3 separate regions of the Homo sapiens genome follow, and regions 2 and 3 are each linked to region 1. The links come from fine-mapping of genetic effects on gene expression. A gene starts in region 1. Each other region holds a variant in brackets. All regions are shown on one strand. Distances are between the middles of the regions.

Region 1 (6,426 bases):
ATCTCTGATTCAAAATGGGACACTTCCATCTTGATAGCCTTACTCTCAGGCCTCAGAGTAGCCAAAAGTGTGCTGTCCATTTACCTGGCTCACAACTGCTCTTACTCAAGTCCAGATCTCTGGTGGGTTCCCAGCTGCATTCAGTTACAGTTCTCACACCCTCAAAAAATACCTCTTTTTGGTCTGATCCTGCCAGAGTAAATGACTGATTTAAAGAAGATAGTATGTTCTCTGTAATATGTCCATGACTCTCACATTTGAAGCAAAGCCTATACTTTGATTTACTGGCTATAACAAAATTTGAGGACATTTACAACTTATCTACCAATACGTATATAATACAGACTTTAAAAACTCACACCCACATGTGTTTTTACAATCAACATGTATTATCCATGTACAAAGAACAATTGTTTTTTAAAAAGTTCAAGTCAATTCACTCGGCTAAATCTGCCTACCCAGATAGTCTGAACAGTCCTGAATCTAAACAAACTTGGTTTCATGTCTTCTAAAGGCAAGGAAACAGAATAATTCTCAAATAGCTAAAACTGTACATACTAAGAATAAAAAAGCTAACTTTTATTGAGCATTAATATGTGCCACAGATTATATTAATTAATAAATCCTCACAACAACCATAATAGATATATTCTTCTTATCCTTTTACAGTTAAGAAAACTAGGACACAAAGTTAAGTAACCTACCCTCAACGACCCATGGTTAGATAGTGGATAAGTGGATTCCAACCCAAATTGTTTAACTCCAAAACCCAACCTATAGTTTATGCTATACTTCCACCTTTGACCTCTGCCTTCTAGGGCAAAGGAGCAAAAAACAAATAAAGAACACACAAAAAATGTAAAAAACAAATGAATAAACAGCCCAGAAGTGAGAGTAATTGAGAAAAAGCAAAAAAAAAAAAAAAAACAAAAAGTAAAATTTGAAATTGCAACACTATGGTGGGGGACGGGGGTGGTGTATGTCTTCAATGAATAAAACGAAATACGTGGGACCTAAATATGCTTTTTTTTTTTTTTTTTTTGAGATGGAGTCTTGCTCTGTCGCCCAGGCCGGAGTGCAGTGGCTCCGGTCACTCCAAGCTCCGCCTCCCGGGTTCACGCCATTCTTCTGCCTCAGCCTCCGGAGTAGCTGGGATTACTGGCGCCCGCCACCACGCCCGGCTAATTTTTCTGTATTTTCTTTTTAGTAGACACGGGGGTTTCACCGTGTTAGCCAGGATGGTCTCGATCTCCTGACCCCGTGATCCGCCCGCCTCAGCCTCCCAAAGTGCTGGGATTACAGGCGTGAGCCACCGCGCCCGGCCCATATGCTCATTTCTTAGCAAGGAAAACTGGGGGTTGCGGGGAAAATGCAAGAGGACAACGAAACCTACAATTTCATAGTGAAAACCTGTTATTCCAAGCAGCACTGACATTGACAAAATCTTGTCTGGAATCACTTCACCATTCAAGGGTAGCAACAACAGATATCCTTTCCTTAACCATCACAGTAACTCTAACTCCACCAACACACAAGAAAAAGAATTCCTAAAACCAGCTCAAGTAGAGCCAAAAAATACTGAGCTTAGAAATCAAAGCATGTGATTCTAGCATAGTAATTAGTTGTGTGTTCTCCAGCGAATCACTTTTCCCTTCTGGGTTTCAATTACCTCATTTGTAGAGGCAAGTGTTTTAACTAAATTAAGGTGTAACTGTCAGCTCTAAGAATTACGTGAAACTTTAAGGAAAACTCCTGTAAAACTTGGAAAGGCTCGGGGATGCATTTAAAACACCGTGAACTATGGGTTCTTTGGCAAGAATGTTCCCTTCTAAGCCGCCACAAGCCCTGGCTAGAACATGACACAGACCGGCTTCCAGGCCCTTGAGGCTCAGAGAGCAAGGTCAAATCCAGCTTTCAATAATTCCATAGGGCTGAGGCATTAACCTCTACGAGTATTATAACCTAAGTCAGAATTCTGGGGGTAAAGGCAGCGGCAGGGGAAGGAGAAATCACTCTTCTAGGTCATCAGAAACCTTAGTCCAGACCCCTCGGGTTGCAGAATCAGGCACAGAGAGGGCGAGCGCCTTGCCCCCACGTTACACAGCAGTTAGCGCCGAGGTCGGGACTAGAACCTCAATCTTTCAGCTCCCCGCTCGGCAAACGGTCCTTCCAAGCGCAGCGAAGCAACAGAGAGGAGGGGCGGGGGCGCGCGGGGACCCGGCACGGAGCGCAGGGGCACCAGGGAGGACAGGGGCGCACCCCGAGTTACCTGTGTCGGCCCCCGAGCCGGCGTGCAACAGTCTGACCTCCGGCCGCTGCCTGTCGCCACCCGGCCTGCGCTGCACCACCTGCCGCAGGAGCAGCCGCATGCGCCGCGAGGCCGGGCCGCCGTGGCCTCCGGGTGCCCCGAGGAGTAGAAGCCGGGATTGCATGGCGCCGGGGGGGCTGTCGGGGACGGCGAGGGGGCTCGGGGATCGAGCGGCGTCCCGTGCAGGCACCGTGAGGCAGCGCGGAGAAGGGGACAGGAAGCGGCACCTAGCCGAGTCCGCCGGAAACTCCTTCCCCCGCGGCGCGGCCGGCTCAGTAGACTCAGCCCGGCCCTACCCGGCCCTGCATGGCCCAGACGGGCGGAAAGAGCCTGCGGAGCTCCAGCCCAAAGAGCCGGCACCGTCCCGGGACTGCCCGCACCGCGGGGGTGCTCCGAGCTGCGGCGCTGGGCTCTGGCAAGCGCCTCGCAGTCCGTGAGACTGTCTGTTCACCTGGATGCACCAGGCCTTCACCCGCCGTTTCCCTGCGATCCCACAGAATCTCAGGAGTTCAGTAAATGCCAAGGGTTTTAGGAGCATTTGTCGGTGTGACTCTTCAGATGCTTGCCCCAAGTCTTCGTTTCTTAGTTAAAGGCCCAGTAAGTATAGGGAGCTTTCCCTGTATTCGGCTTCAGATTTCGGAAATGGAGAAAACATGCACAAGATGATGGGAACTTTCACAACTGTCTTGATTCATTGTAACCACACTAGTGTTTCCAAACCGTACGTGAAAGCTTTACCCTTTGTCCTTTTGGTGGTGGTTGTTTGTTTCTGTGTTTTATTACCGCTTCCTAAATTCTAAGGAAAAAATTCACATCTTAGTGATAGATGGAAATTGCTTAAATATCAGAAAGGATCCAGATCAAGCACTTTTCTAGTCATGCTGTAATACAAAAGTTATATAAAGATGATTTATGTCTTTAGTAAAGGAAAAAGTAGGACACTGGCTAAGGCTGCCTCCCTCTTGTACATTCCAACATCGGAAATGGTCCTACCACAAAGCAAACTAAGCCTAATGTAATTAGACTGCATCCCCAAAATGTCACAGTGAATTGACTAAGGCAAAATATTTGAGACAAGTTATACAAGCAAACATCAAAAAGAAGGCAGAAGACCTCACTTTCAGCTAAAGACCTTGCTAATTCTAGAGCTGCCACTGTCTAAATACATAGCACCTACCCTGCGCCTGACCCTGTGATGAGTGCTGAGAAGAGAGTGTTAGAGTGGAGACTGTAAAAGTCAAACAAGGCTAGGTAAGGAAGGCTTTGGGCATCCAGCGGAAGAACTTGAGGAATGAAGGCTGAACCAGGCTTCTAACCTAGATGAGGAGACAGTGAAAATAAAGGTAATAAGTAGTTACACAATATATTATGACTTCGTTTCATGTGTATCTTCTCATTTAATCCTCATAGCAACCCTAAGACATAAATTTAGGATGTAAGCTTATAAAATGCTTTTCCTACTTTGAGCACATTGTATGTATCAAGATTTTAATGAATTATCCCATTTCACATAAAAATGCTTTGAGGTACTATTATTATCCTCCGTTTTACAGATGAAGAAACTGAGGCTAGAAGAATTGAATACCTTGGTCAAGATATCTCCATTTAATCTCGCTGGAACTCAGTAGACACCTGAAAGAATGGGAGAACAACCTAAGGCAATTTTGCAAAGTGGTTGATATAAGCACTAAGAGCTCTTGGAGTTAAGACAATGGAGAGATCAACACAAGTTAGAGCATTCAACAACATTTTTTGCCTAGTTTTATTTTTTTTAGAGACAAAGTCTCACTCTGTTGCCCAGGCTGGGGTGCAGCGGCAGTATTATAGCTCATTGCAACCTCGAACTCCTGGGCTCGAGTGATCCTCCTGCTTCAGCCTCCCTAGTAGCTGAGACTACAGGCGTGCACCACTGTGCCTGGCTAATTTTTGTGTTTTTGTTTTCGTAGCAGTGGAGTCTTGTTATGTTGCCCAGGCTGGTCTCAAGCTCCTGGCCTCAAGTGATCCTCCTGCCTCAGCCTCCCAACGACAACATTTATTGAGTAACTGCTGTATAAACAGTACCCTGCTAGATACTGTGAATCAATGGGCTCACATTAGGTATTGATGATAAATATGCAAATAAAGAATTGCAATACAGTGAGACACGTGTCAAGAGATTTAGGTTCAACATACTGTGGAGTGGATTGCTGCACCTGGAGTCTTCACAGAGAAGGTAGTGTTTGAAATGATTCATGTAGGATATATTATACAAGAGTTTGTCAGGCTGAGACAAGTCAAATCTGGCAGACAGATCATGTACAGAGAGAGAGAGAAAGAAACAGCTGAAAGTGCAGGGCATGATTGAGAACCAGAGAGTGATTCAGTGTGTCTAGAGGTCAAGTATATACAACAGTTTGTAAGAATAAGACCAGAAAGAGAATCTGGGGCCATGTTGTATGCCAAGAGAAGGAGTTTGCACATTAACCTCCAGGAAATGGAAAAATGGTGAAGGTTTTTTAGAGTGACAAAGCTACAATGGGGAGGAAAACTTTGAGCCTGAGAAAAGGCAGCACCTGAGCTTAACTTTGAATGCCATTTAGGACTGGATACACAGAGAAGCGGGGTATAGAGCCTAAGTAGAGGCTTGGAGTCCTGACAGAGTTCAGTTACAGGGGCCATGAGACCAGCCAGATGAGGAGGTTAATCTTTCGAAAGTAGTAGAAGGTGTTGGCAGAGCAGGAGGAGAAGGTTACAGAGTGAAGAATCTTGAGTAGCTGGATGAAGTTGGACTTCATCCGATGAGCAAACTGGGCAGCTACTGGACTTTTTGATCGTGTTTTAGGTGGTGACATACTATGAATTGAATTAGGAAGACAGGAAGCATCAAGTGCTAGCTACGTGGCAGTAAAAATAGTCTCTACTTGAAATGATGAACAGTGCTGATGGCAATGAGACTGAATGGGAAAGAATGGACCTTCACAATGTTTTTAAAGAAGAACCAAAGGTGTTTTGTTTTAAAAGATGTTCATCACAATCTGTGTAAAGTCTCTCAAACTCTCACTAAAATATCTGATCACATGCTTATTAAAAAACAAGCTACCAGCCGGGCACAGTGGCTCAAACCTATAATCCCAGCACTTTGGGAGGCTGAGATGGGTGGATCACCTGAGGTCAGGAGTTGAGACCAGCCTGGCCAACATGGCAATACCCCATCTCTACTAAAAATACAAAAATTAGCCAGGCGTGATGGTGGGTGCCTGTAATCCCAGCTACTCGGGAGGCAGGGGCAGGAGAATCGCTTGAACCCGGGAAGCAGAGGTTGCAGTGAGCTGAGATCGCACCAGTGCATTCCAGCCCGGGCAACAGAGTGAGACTCTGTCTCAAAAAAAAAAAAAAAAAGAAAAAAGAAAATCACACTACCAAAAGCTAGTATTGACTGTCAAGCTCTTTCCAGAGTTTGGGAGGAATATTTTTTACATACCACATTAATGTAACTTGATGAAAAATGCAACTAATAATCCTTCCATGCTATGTCTGACTGAAAAAAGGTGGGTGCTCCACTCCTCCCTACTGTCTACCCCAGCTAAGAAATCAAAGGTTCATACCACTGGTTCCCAGACTTTTGTGTGCATCCTAATTACCTGGAGAACTTATTAAAATGCAGATTATAGGGTTTCGTTCCTCCCTGCACCCAGAGATTCTGAGTCAATAGGTCTGAAAGGGCCCAAGAATATTCATCTTTAGTAATACCTATAGGAGATCACCCATGTGCCACACATTTCAGTCATGAAGCTGTACAACTGTTCTTTATAGAGAGGGAGGGAAAAAGGAAAATCACAGCCAGGTGCAGTGGCTCACGCCTGTAATCCCAACACTTTGGGAGGCCGAGGCGGGCGGATCACCTGAGGTCAGGAGTTCGAGACCAGCCTAGCTAACATGGAGAAACCCCATTTCTACTAAAAATACAAAAAATTAGCTGGGTGCGGTGATGTGCACCTGTAATCCCAGCTACTCGGGAGGCTGAGGCAGGAGAATCGCTTGAACTCAGGAGGCAGAGATTGCAGTGACCTGAGATCGTGCCATTGCACTCCAACTTGGGCAACAAGAGTAAAACTCTGTTTCAAAACAAAAAACAAACA
Region 2 (6,426 bases), 25 kb after region 1:
ACTCCTAATGAAGAAAAATGTTTAGGCAAGCATTCGTGTTACCAAGGATCTGAGGTTAATTTTGTTGCTCTTGTCAAAAGCGTTATTTTTAAGGACAAGATTTGGTCTTTTCTCTCCTACCACTTCATTTCTCTTGCTCTTGCAGCTTTAGTTGCCATCTCTAAGAGGAAGACCTCCAAGTTCAAGTTCTTTGCTCTTAGTCTTGTATTTCCAACTCTTGAATTAGCAGCTCTATCTGGTTCTTCTACAGGTCTTTCAAACATGGTATGTTCAAAACAGCATGGTCTCCCTCTTCTCTACCCCTGTTCTTCTGGGTTAGCTGGGTTAGCTGGGAGGAAAGGCTTTGTAGATTGAAGGCAGCCCTCCCAATGTAAAAGGGATTCTTAATTTATACTGCTTGTTAACCATTATTCGGCAGGATTTGTTTCAGAATGTACATCATATATATATAATATATACATAGTATATGTATATCATTACATATATGATATATACATATGTATATATTATATATAAAATATATTTAAATTAGCCAAGTATTAGATGAAGTTTCCTTCACAAAAATTGAATTGCCAAGATTTTTTAGAGCAAATTATATATTTAGCAGTCATTTCTAATGGCACTCACAAAACTAAAGCATTAGAACCATGACACTGATTTTTAGTATTTGTTTTTGTTTATGTTGTGATATATTAAACAAGCGTATAGAAAGTTCCTGGTTTAGTTGTGCCCAGCTTAGCTCATTTCTCTTGCCTGAGCTCTAATGATGCTGCTGTAAAAGTGTCCCTTTTTTGCATCGGCTAAGAATTTTCCTCCTGACTTGGGATCCCTCTCCCTTGTGCTAATGCAGAGCCTCTGCTACCCAGAACGGCACATCTCTTTCACATGTGCTCTTGTTTCTTACCCCTCATCACTCCTGGTCAGTTCCTGCCTCGTTCTAGCAGGGACTCTCTCTACTTGTCACTGTGCCCAAAACTGGTAAGGGAGTGGACTTCCTAATTCTGCAGAATTGTGCTACAGAAAAAAGATTTAATGTCTGCTTTCAAGGTGCTCAGAGTCTAGAGAAATGGAAGAAAGTTACTAAAAATGCTAAGTTAAAGCTATATGCTGAGGGAACGCTGAAGGAGACCTCAACCCAGGCTGAAGATCTAGGAAGGAATCAGTCAGATGGAATGGATGGAGGGCTGGCAAAGAGATGAGGCTCGAAAGGAGATAGGAGCCAAATAAAGGGAATTTAAATTTAATCCCCCCAAATATTGGGTTCCTCAATTAGGAGAGTAACATGATTAGATTTATCTTACTTATAGCATGGAGAATGGATGGGAGGCATAAGGGTACAGGCAGAGAGAAACATTTGGGCTGCAGGTGAGAGATTGTGAGAGCCTGAATCCAGGCAATGGCCATGGGATGGGGGGAATTTAAGAAACTAGGGAGGAATTTAAAGACCAAAACAATATCACATAAGGAATGATGGGGCATATGGCTCAGGGAAGAATAGAAAAGGCATTTGAGAGAAAAGAGGGAGAGAGGATAGAGGGAAATAACAGAGGAAAAAATGGAGAGGAGAGATGGAACTGGAAGAAACGAGGAAAGAGGAAGAGAAAAAAGCAGGGAAATTTTCATTACTGCTCTTTCCACCATGTCCGCCAGCCTGGTTGTGTGCTTGTAAGGCAATTGAGAGGGACTGGGGAAACTAAGAAATGGTGAAAAACAGAAAAATCAAAATTGAAAATGAGAAGTGGGGAAACTTATTCAGCCTTATTTTTCATATCCATCCTCCAAGCCCTTGGTCCCCTCCTCCTTTATGACAGCTTCTGTTTCCATTGTTGGGTCTTTTTTATATTTTAAGTAACCATGTTGAATAGTATTGTGAAGGGAGGTGAATAATCCGTTTACTTAAAAATGTGTTGCTATGCATTATATCTCTAAGTATATTTTATAGTAGAAGAAAAGGTAACTTCTTACAGTTCCAGGTACTTGAACTTTACCTTCACCCAGAAAAGTAAAGTGTCATTATTTCAATGGGAATATGGACTGAGTTCCAAACAAATGTCTTACAATTAACTTTTCGGGAAAAAAATCTGTCTTTGAGCCCAGTACTAACCATATTAAATATATACACTATGAAGAAGAAAATCAGGAAGTGCTTTAAATGCTCTCTTCTTTAAACTTTGGCTTGTTCCTGCTGATTACTCACTATTTGAAAGTACATGATAGTTCTATTTAAAAGAAAAGTGAGAAATTCAGTCAAGAATGTTTTCATACACCCATAAATATTTGGCACTATATGGATAATTTCTTGCATTGACATAGAAAGGGACTCTCAAAGCCCATTTACATCTAATAAGGCATCACTGGATGCAACTAGGTTATGACCCCTTTGAAAAGAAGAGACTGATAAGCATCTTTACTGAGTTTGGCAGACTGCCCTTTGGATTAGCTGTTGATATGCCACATGTGGTACTTCTCAAAACAGAACAACTCATGTTTGAGGAATATATCAGTATTAGAATTTTGTGTAATTGTTTTATGAGGGCTGTAGGCCATGCACCCTCTGTGGGTGGCATTAGGGTTTCCTCTGAATGGCATGGACATTCTCATGGTGAGTCATCGTGGGGAGAGGGAGAGGTCAGTATTGGAGGAAGACTTGAGGATACAAAAATCAGGCCTCAGACTTTCTTCTTTTGGGTCGGGGGTCAGTTTGGCTGAAATGGTGGGGCAAAGTGATGCTGAGGCATGTCTGATGATTTGGAGTGAATACCTAGAGGCATTGAACTGTGTGGCAGACATGGGAATGTGTAGCATTCAGAACTCCAGCTAAGGAAGACTCATGCCCAGCTACGAGGAATATGGTTAGCTGACAACCTCCAACTATTCAGTTCTGCAGGTCCACCTCAGCTTTTGAGTCAAGGTCATGCACTTCCTTCTCTTCTCTAGGTAGCCTTAGCCCATGACTAAGAAAGACTGTGGTCCAAGGGTCTAGCCCTTTCTGCCCAAAGGTGGGCTCCTCTCAAGACAAGCTTTGATCTGGAGTTCCTGCTGGGCAGAAGAGACTTTGTTAGGTCTGCATCTCAGTAAGATGGCTCTCCTAGCCAATCCCAGCTCTTCCCTTTTATTCCCACTGGAGGTGGGATAAGAGGTGGGAATAAGAGGTCTTATTCTCCAGTAAATCTTTTGCACTCTCAACTTCCTACGTCTGCTTCCCTGAGGACCCAACTGATGACACACCCTGCCAAAAGGAGGCAGGCAAGGAGAGAGGTTAGGAGTGGTCACTCCCAGAGGATCCGCCCACCTTGGCCTCCCAAAGTGCTGGGATTACAGGTGTGAGCCACCGCGCCCGGCCTGCGCTCTTTTCTGATTCATGTAACTCTTCTTCTACTATCTGGGCTTTCTCCTCCAAATCAATATTTCCTACAACAAATATTTTCTTACATGTAAGTATTTTTTTAAA[AT/A]TTTTTTTTCCCCTCTGATCAATTTGTAATGAGTACTGCTGCATTTGTCTGTTATTTTTAATTACTTTGCATGATTATGACAACTTTTCTTTCTGACTTCATCTTACTATTTCTATTTTTGTTGTGCATTTTAACATACATGGTGAATCTCCTTCTAAGCCATGGAAATGATCTGTAGTAGCTCACACTCTGTTTTTGGATCTTCTTTTCTTTCTTATTGAGTCCCTTAATTTTTATTTTTTCCTGTCCCCAGATATTTCTTATGCAAAAATGAAAATAAATTTAAAACACTTACTAATTTTTGCTTTTGTTTCAACCAGTCAATGCTTCCCATAAGAATAAAATAGTCAGAAATCCTTACTTTGTATTTTATTTATTTTTTTTTTGAGACAGACTCTCACTCTGTCACCCAGGCTGGAGTGCAATGGTGCGATCTTGGCTCACCGCAACCTCTGCCTCCCAAGTTCAAGCAATTCTCCTGCCTCAGCCTCCCAAGTAGCTGGGATTACAGGTGCCTGCCACTAAGCCCGGCTAATTTTTTTTATTTTTAGTAGAGATGGGGTTTCAACATGTTGGCCAGGCTGGTCTCAAACACCTGACCTCAGGTGATCCACCTGCCTCGGCCTCCCAAAGTGCTGGGATTACACACATGAGCTGCCATGCCCAGCCAAAATTCCTTATTATTCCTTCATCTGGTGTAAATTCTCAGCTGCCCTGAGCAAGTGACTGAGTGGTTATTGCTAAGCCAGCTTTATAGTAGTAAGAATAATTATCCTTGGATTTCTTTTTCATGTTCAATTTTCTCTTGGACTTTATTTCTAGGCTTTGTATATTTTCTAAGGGAAATGAACAATGATTTTACTGGCCTTTTTTTGTGCTTCAAGCTCTTTACATTAAGCTCTGTGTCTGAAGGAATTTTTCTTTTATTCTCTGTACCATGGGCCAGGAAATAGTTTAACCAATGTTTTCTAGAAATTGTATTCTCTGGCTATTATGCTGTGTGAACAATTTAGCAATTTCCTTCTACCTGCCATAACCACAGAAGGAGAATGGAGTAATATTGCTCTATGAAGATATTTGGATCTAACCTCTATAGCTGAAAGAGAAAAATTGAAGTTAAATGGGCAAGATTCATGTTTATTTTTGTTTGAGTTATTTATTAACACATGATAGGAACAGTTGTACTATGAAATGCTTCATTATTAGTTATGTAACATTGTTTTTACTGGGATACTAAAACCTTTATACTTTGTTAGTTTAGAGCAGTATTTCTAGAATGGTTTCTACCAATTTTTTCCCTTGAAATAGTTACTTTTTAATATAACTTAACATGACTATTCAAAATTCTAACAGCTTGATTAAGTGAAAAAAAACTTTGTATATTGACCAACGCTATCTTTTTTGAAAATGTGTAATGTAATAGAAGCATAGAATTTAGACAGAAGGGCCAGGCGTAGTGGCTCATGCCTGTAATCCCAGCTCTTTGGGCGGCGAGGCGGGTGGATCATTTGAGGTCAGGAGTTTGAGACCAGCCTGGCCAACAGGGTAAAACCCCGTCTCTAAAAATACAACAATTAGCCAGGCATGGTGGCGGGTGCCTGTAATCCCAGCTACTCGGGAGGCTGAAGCAGGAGAATTGCTTGAACCTGGGAGGTGGAGGTTGTAGTGAGAAGAGATCATACCACTGCACTCTAGCCTGGGCAACAGAGGGAGACCTCATCTCAAGAAAAAAAAAAAAAAGAATTTAGACAGAAGGAAAATCAGGAGATTGTCTAGTTTAACTTCCTATAGAGTGCAGATTCTCTCCAGCCACATTGTTGAGATATATAATTTGGTTTTTGCATTTAGTTTTTGCTTGAATGCTTCTATTGTAGAGAGCTCTTATGAAAGCTCACTTTCATTAAAAAAAAAAAAAACTCTAAGATTAAGAAAATCACTTAATTTGAATCCAAATCTGCTCTAGAACTTCCATTTGGTACCAGTTTTCCCTTTTGGAGTCACTCATATCATGCCTTCTCTGTTCTGCATGGCAGTGCTTTATATTTAAATATTGAGGTACATATCTCCTTATTTTTCTCCTTTCCAGGTTAAACACTGACACTCTCATCAGCCATTTTTTATGGCTTTCAACTTTTTCTCCACCTCACCTAATTCATGAATGATGATACTCTTAAATGTGATGTGTAAAGTTATACTCAATTCTTGCTTTAAAATATACGTGTAAGAAAGTGAAAAGACAACCAACATGATGGGAGAATATATTTGTAAATCCCATGTCCACTAAGATACTTGCATCCAGAATATAGGAAGAGTTCTTACAACTTAAGGTTAAAAAAAAATCCAATTTAAAAATGGACAAAGAACTTGAATTGACATTTCTCCGAAACAAAAAAAAGACCTAAGGTCAATAAACATGAAAAGACACTCAACATCATTAGTCATTAGGGAAATGTAAATCAAAGCCATATTGAGATACCACTTTATATTAGTAGAATGGCTATAATAAAAAAGATGACAGGCCGGGCGCGGTGGCTCCTGCCTGTAATCCCAGCACTTTGGGAGGACAAGGTGGGAGGATCACCTGAGGTCAGGAGTTTGAGATCAGCCTGCCCAACGTGGCGAAACCCCATCCCTACTAAAAATACAAAAAATTAGCTGGGTGTGGTGGCAGGCGCCTCTAATCCCAGCTACTCAGGAGGCTGAGGCAGGAGAATTGCTTGACCCGGGAGGTGGAGGTTGCAGTGAGCCGAGATCGTGCCACTGTACTCCAGCCTGGGCAACAAGAGTGAAACTCCATCAAAAAAAAAAAAAAAAAAAGACAGTAACAAGTCTTGGCTAGAATGTGGAGAAATTAGAACTTTCTTACATCACTGGTAGAATGCAAAATGGTACAACTACTTTGGAAAAATAGGTTGGCCATTCATCAAAAGGTCCAACACAGCCACCCCATTGACTGGCGAAGACATAGTGGCTG
Region 3 (6,426 bases), 380 kb before region 1:
TGGAACCAGACCAATGTTGTAGCCATCTCCAGAGTGTCCAACGATGTCATACTACATGCAAGAGAACCAGAAAGTTATAAACTTTTCTCCACAAAAGAACAGTCATTAGATCTTTAATGTTCAACTCTTTGGACCATTATTGTCCAAAGTTGCTCAACATATGGCCATAAAGAAATGCAGTGAGACAGAAGTGTGTTTAATTCTCTAATCTCACTATGTACATGAGAAACTCTTGTCTACTGAGAAAGGCTAGAGCTGGGAGTCAAGTGCAACCTTTTCACAGAGTCTGGAAAAAAAGTCTGGGGTCTGAGGTAAACTATAATTGGGGTGAGGTAGTTCCCTCCAACTTTGAGTTACACATACTCTTGTGTTGTAGAGCAATGCAGTTATTTCTTTTCATGTATGTTCCTTTTAAAATGGTGAGTTATTTGAAGGTGAGGCCACAGCTTATTTCTCTTTGAATTTCTAGAATCTAAGAGAGTGCCTAGCATGTTTATTGCACAAATGCTGTAAGAGAGTTTGCAATCAAGTTGGGGCAATAAGAAGCTTTTCCCTTGCATGTGGGCTACATTCTCCTACAAATAAGCTGTTTGAAGCTGGAATGCATTTTTCCCCCTCAACAATCATGGGATAAATGGTGGTTAGTCCATGCTAGCTGACAAACAACAATCCATAACATAACTGAAACTGCTGTGTTTTAAATGGAAAGAAACAGAAAAAATTTGGTTGAAATTGTTATGCAAAAATAGGAAGTGAGAAGAAGGGTTTCCTAGGGAAGATGAGTCCCATTATAGATATGCTGAACTTGTGTCCTGGGGGAGAGATGTGGCTAGGGGTGAAGACCTAACAGTTATCCCCAGGAGGGAATAAATGGAGGCCCATATATTATGTCTAAATATGTAAAAGATATACATCAGGCTACCAACTGTTAAATAAAACATGTTCTGTCCTCCCACTTTGATAAAATATACGTTATAATAACCTGGAAAGCCAGGGCCAAATTTCAAATACTTGGGTTCCTGGAAGTTCTGTGCTAGAACATGGTCACATGGACAGTAATGGCCCCTGGCCCATAGCCCATACCCTTCTCTTTTCATAGTTGGCTCTGGCCCACCCCATGAGGTACCTCAAATGCATGTGTGTGGACACCCAGTGCTGACATCCACACTCCATCGCTCCATCATAAACAACAGTTACCCTCTGCCCACCCTCTGAGCACCTTGGGGTGCTCACACAATTGGCCAGTCTGTCCTAGGAAGATGGACTTAGGAAAGAGGCCCACGCAGGATTTGGAAGCAGGCTTGGGGTCATTTGATGAGAATAGTTGGGGATCCCAGGTACCAGGAGCATGATCTAAAAACAGGCTTTAAAGGCCCTTTGGCCCCATAGACACCTCACCTCATGGGAGGGTCATGGTCAGAGGAGGGCCAGAGTGGGGCCATGGGTGGGGGTGAGATGGTGGGAGATTATTCTGTGCCTGGTTTAAATATAAAAGAATAGCGAAGGAAATTTATCAATGCATTAAAAAGGTTGACAGTAAATGATTTCCAATGATGTAACACATTCCATATAAGAAAAAAAAATTATTCTTAGTATAGTTTGCTATCAATAGAGTGAAAAGGTACCAAATAAAAACTGAAACTAAAAGCAGCTGAGCTCAGCTGTTAGAAATTGCTCAGGATAGGAAATTTCTGGCTTCGGCATAGGCTTGACTAAAGTCATCCATGGGTTCAGTGGTAGGATTGGCACAGATGTGGAGAGAGCTTGCATAATCCTTCCATGGAAGCACACTCCAGGGAGGCCCCGACTGATTTGACAACGGTCATGGCAGGAACTGTTTGTAGTCAAGAGGGGAAAGTTCTCCTGAGAAAGTGCCAGGCAGGTTGCTTTCATTATGGGCTGGTGAAGTAATCTGCTAAACAGGATCTTACACATGAGGGAATAAGATCAGTTCCCTGACACGGAACTAGGTTTCTTATATTGGGCTGAGGTAAGAGGGCTATGAATGTGTTTGACTTTTCCCTCCCTTTTAACTGATGGCTAGAGTTCTTTCTAATTAGATGATAGTGAATGAAACTATAGAAATCTTTGATCATATGGTCTGTCACAGGGTCAATGTAACTGGTCAAAGAGCAGTCAACAAATACAGTTTTTAGCTGGTCTTTAGTAAAACAAGATACTGGCTGATTAAAACCTTCAGAAATACTTTAGCAACCATCCATCTATCATTTGATTGTGTGACTGATATATCTATCTACCATTTAAATATATGCCTAGGAGAAAAAAAACATACTATACTTTTCTAGGCAAATGAGACAAAGAAAGGTGGACTGTATGCTTCTTTTTCTTCCTTCTTCCCTCTTCCCTTTCTTTCTTCTTTTTTTCCCTTCCTTTTTCTTTCTCATCTCTTATTTGGGTAAGGAAAGACCAGCCTTTGTCTGTGCCTGGTGAGTACTGCAAAGGCTTGCAAAGACACCTAAGTGACAGGATGGAGCTTATAAAATAGTTTGCAGGCCCTGGTTTCTCATCTTCCAGATGGGTTTGAGGATTATTCTGTGACCAAAGCCAATAAAACGCTTGGGAGGAATCTAAAGTACATCCAAATGTGGACCATTCCCTGG[C/A]GTTACTGCAGATTATATTAAGCTTCCATTACCAGCAATACTCCTCCATCAAAATTATCTAGTATCTGCTATCCAAGGATTCCAACATGGTTTACCAACAGTGATTTGCTAATCCTGAAAATTGTGTGGGTTAATGGAAAAGATGCATACTCTCATTCATTTCCATTTGCTAACTCCTAAATCTGCCATTCACCTGATCTGGTTTCTACGATGATCGTGAAATCCAACTTGACAGGGCCTCGAGCATGCTTCCATGGAGGAGCTACAGGAGTCAATAAACAAGATCCTCACTGTCATTATCAAACCGCCTAACATTTAGATCAGAATTTTTTCTGAGCTCAAAATTTTTATGATCATGATTTCTGCACTTTTCAGAGCATTCCTGAAAACCCTGTGCAGTCTCACATTTAGCATTTAACATAAATATTAAGCCACAGTAGTAAAGAAAAGCCTCAACTGCAGAGGACCAATTTAAATACTTTTTTGCTTTAGAAATCTGTTTAAATGCCCTTTTGCTATATTTTCTTTTGGAAGTGTTGTTCATTTAGAGAAAAGTATAACAAACAAAAACAAATGCTGAAATTTTGGTCAAAGATGTGGTTTATCATCAAATAAGAATGATTTATAATGTTTAGAATGCATAGGACAAAGTGCTATTAGCAATTTTATGAATAAGATTTATGTGTAAATTTCTATTAGGACGGACAACCATTTGCTGGCTTTAGGAGATGCTATGCTTTATTATGCGGCCACATTGTAAGTAGGTACGAGACAATCATCTAAGGCTATTTATTAAAACTACTAGGTGTAAAATTCTCATGTCCTTCTAGAAATATAAATACACCATTCTCATTCTCCTGTGTGCCACTAACTACGGGCTACACAGGATCAGAAGATAAATATGTGATTTAAAAAGTCAAGAGAAATGCCAGCGGAACCCTAGTGTTAGTTACGTAATAACCTATAGCATTAGCTGGCTAACCTTTCTTCAGATCATGTAAGTCAACGTGAAAAGAATAATGTACTGAAAGGTCAAGGATTCTAGGCTCTGACGTTAACAAGCTTTTTGACTTAGAGAAAAATCACTTAACCTCTCTAAACCTTGTTTCTACCTTGTAAACAATGATGGCTTAGAAAGTCTCTAACACTGTATGCTTGTTAATCACTTAACCTCTCTGACAACATGGGGTAATATCTGTCTTACCACCTCCCAGGGTCATTGAAAGGATAGGACAATACACTTACTGACTTTATAGTTTGTTACAGTTTACAAAGGGCTTCCATATATCTCATCTCATTTTGATTTTCTCTACAAGTTTTGGGGTGTTATCCTTATGTCACAAATGCAGAAATTGATTCTTAGAGAGACTAACAGACTTCCTTAAGGGTGTTGGTTAAACCCCAGGTTTTCTGACACTAAATCCATTTTGGTTGTTTTTATTTTTTGATTTTCTTTTGAGACAGGGTCTTGCTCATTGGCCAGACTGGAATGCACTGGTACGATCACAGCTCACTGCAGCCTCAACCTCCTGGGCTCAAGTAATCCTCTCATTTCAGCCTCCTGAGTAGCTGGGACCACAGGCATGCGCCGCCACACCTGGCTAATTTTTGTATTTTTTTTTTTTTTGTAGAGACAGGGTCTTGCTACATTGCACATGCTGGTTTTGAACTCCTGGGCTCAAGCAATAAACCCGCCCTGGCCTCCCAAAGTGCTGGAATTATAGGCATGAACCACTGTGCCCGGCCCAGTGTTTTTACTACAGAGAAATAACTACTTCCCCAGCTACGCTCCCCTCCCATCTCTACTTGTTTTTGAATGGTTGGGTTGGCCAATATTTCTACATCCACAATTGAATCAATTCTGAATTCTTGTTTGAAGGGACTCAGAAAAGTATGTACGACCTCCTTTGGTCCAATCTCCATGTAGCAATAAGAATTTATTCACAGCCTAAACTGATAGGATGACTGATCTCCATTTCTAAACCTGTGAAACATTCTTGAGGTACTGGAAAGAGATTAATTGCAGATACTGAATTAACTTCTTGATAGAAGAAATTTCCCTGGCAGGTGCTGATTTGTGAGTCATATGTTTCCACTTTCTCCTGGGAGTTAACTCAGCCTTTCTGATCAAGGTATCTTTGAGAAAAGTTTGTCTATTATACCTCCCTTGGATGGTGAGGTGCCAAGGGTAGGAGAAGACAGAGTACCTTACATAAATGATACACTTGCTCCTGAATTACAGTTTAAAAAAATCAAATTGAACAGAGATAAAACAGCTATAAGAAACAGGGATGAAACATCAACTAAGAGCCCTGAAGTGGAAGTCAGAAGTGCTGGCTTTGCACTGTAACGGTGTGACCTTGGGCAAAGCATTGAACCTCTTTGAATCTTTGTTTTCTCTTCTGTAAAACAAAAAGGTTGGTGAAAATAATTTCCAAGGCCATTCCTACCCCCCAAATTCTATATAAACTTAATGGTATGTTTAAGAATTGTAATGAGAAAGCCTGCTTCTCTTAGTTTTAGGAACACCTAATGCCTTGTTTTCTTCTGTCAAGGGAGAGTGAGTCATCTATTTTATTTTATTTTATTTTATTTTATTTTATTTTTTTTTGAGACGGAGTCTCGCTGTCGTCCAGGCTGGAGTGCAGTGGCGCAATCTCGGCTCACTGCAGGCTCCGCCCCCTGGAGTTCACGCCATTCTCCTGCCTCAGCCTCCGGAGTAGCTGGGACTACAGGCGCCCGCCACCTCGCCCGGCTAATTTTTTGTATTTTTTTAGTAGAGACGGGGTTTCACCGTGTTACCCAGGATGGTCTCGATCTCCTGACCTCGTGATCCGCCCGCCTCGGCCTCCCAAAGTGCTGGGATTACAGGCGTGAGCCACCGCGCCCGGCCGAGAGTGAGTCATCTAAATCAGAGGGTCAATGGCACCTTTTCCAGAAAGAAAGCCCTCAGAGCCTGTGAGAAATAATAATCCAGTACATTACATAATCCCTAACACAATGGCTTTCTAATTCTTCCTTTCCTTTAAAAATTTGTTAGCAGTGGAACCCTTCCTTCAAATGAAATACTGCACAAAAGCCCAGCTTATGAAACATCCTGCATTATCTATACATGTGAAATTGTTGTAGTTGAATTGGGGATGGAGGGCAATGGGGCACAAAGTGCTGCCTACTCACTGCCCCCCTCCACTGCCAAACATCCTTCAAAGGTTCTTGTTACACTGTTAGAAAACCACTGCCCTAGGATATGGTTTATATGCCTTCACAGAAACAATACGTTTAAGTTTCTTTTTTTTTTTCCAAGTGCAACTTCTGAATAATGAAATAAATCTCTTTTCTGGTCCCACTATTTGAGTGCTTAGTGGAGAAATAGTTACCTAACTTTGGTATTATTGAGTACTTTGAAAAAAAATTAAGCCATTAAGAGCCTTTGAAAAGGAGGTGTATTTCAAGATTACAGTGAAAACATTCCCAGGAGCTTGGAGAAAGCATGAGGAACAAATTGGAATGAAGGTTAAGGAAAAAAATGCTTCTTGATGAAAAGACAACGGTTCACAAAAACAGTACTATTCTACTTTTCACTTTAATTTGAAGCACTACATGAACACTAAGAATGATGCTGACTACAAGAGTAGAGGAGCTTATGCTGATTATAAGCAAATGATGTTGCGCTAGTCTTCAGTGACCTACTGTGAATGCTATTCCCGGGAATAGCTGAATTCAGTTGGTGGAGCAATTATGAGAAACTTTAAACACTCCAAATGGCTTAGAGATGTGTCTTGCCACTGAATTACCTTTCCTTCTC

Which allele goes with the higher level. Positions count from the first base shown, and alleles are read on the strand shown. Sizes are in standard deviations (SD) of each study's normalised expression. Not every link is listed here.
In carriers of allele AT in region 2, the expression in monocytes after interferon gamma of the gene that starts at base 2,526 in region 1 tends to be higher than with A alone (moderate effect, 0.64 SD a copy in Fairfax 2014).

Evidence for each region. PIP is the estimated chance that this variant, and not a neighbour inherited with it, causes the effect.
Region 2: its variant is the best candidate, but not a certain one, in a credible set for the expression of VWA8 in monocytes after interferon gamma (Fairfax 2014, PIP 0.56).
Region 3: its variant is the best candidate, but not a certain one, in a credible set for the expression of VWA8 in whole blood (INTERVAL, PIP 0.73).

Annotation. Positions count from the first base shown.
Region 1 is chr13:41,958,584-41,965,009 of GRCh38, forward strand. It overlaps VWA8 (von Willebrand factor A domain containing 8), which reads right to left and starts at 2,526. Exons shown (of 45, transcript NM_015058.2): 1 at 2,270-2,526. The coding sequence starts at 2,432. It overlaps VWA8-AS1 (VWA8 antisense RNA 1), which reads left to right and starts at 2,586. Exons shown (of 4, transcript NR_039974.1): 1 at 2,586-3,651. RefSeq lists enhancers at 759-1,259, 1,260-1,760, 1,856-1,995 and a silencer at 2,196-2,605.
Region 2 is chr13:41,983,823-41,990,248 of GRCh38, forward strand. The region is part of intron 2 of LOC105370176 (a long non-coding RNA gene); the gene reads right to left. Among named protein-coding and RNA genes, the nearest start is that of VWA8-AS1, 26 kb to the left of the region's middle. The variant AT/A (reference allele first, on the strand shown) is at 3,452.
Region 3 is chr13:41,575,788-41,582,213 of GRCh38, forward strand. VWA8 (von Willebrand factor A domain containing 8) reads right to left here. Exons shown (of 45, transcript NM_015058.2): 43 at 1-51. Among named protein-coding and RNA genes, the nearest start is that of MIR5006, 11 kb to the left of the region's middle. The variant C/A (reference allele first, on the strand shown) is at 2,622.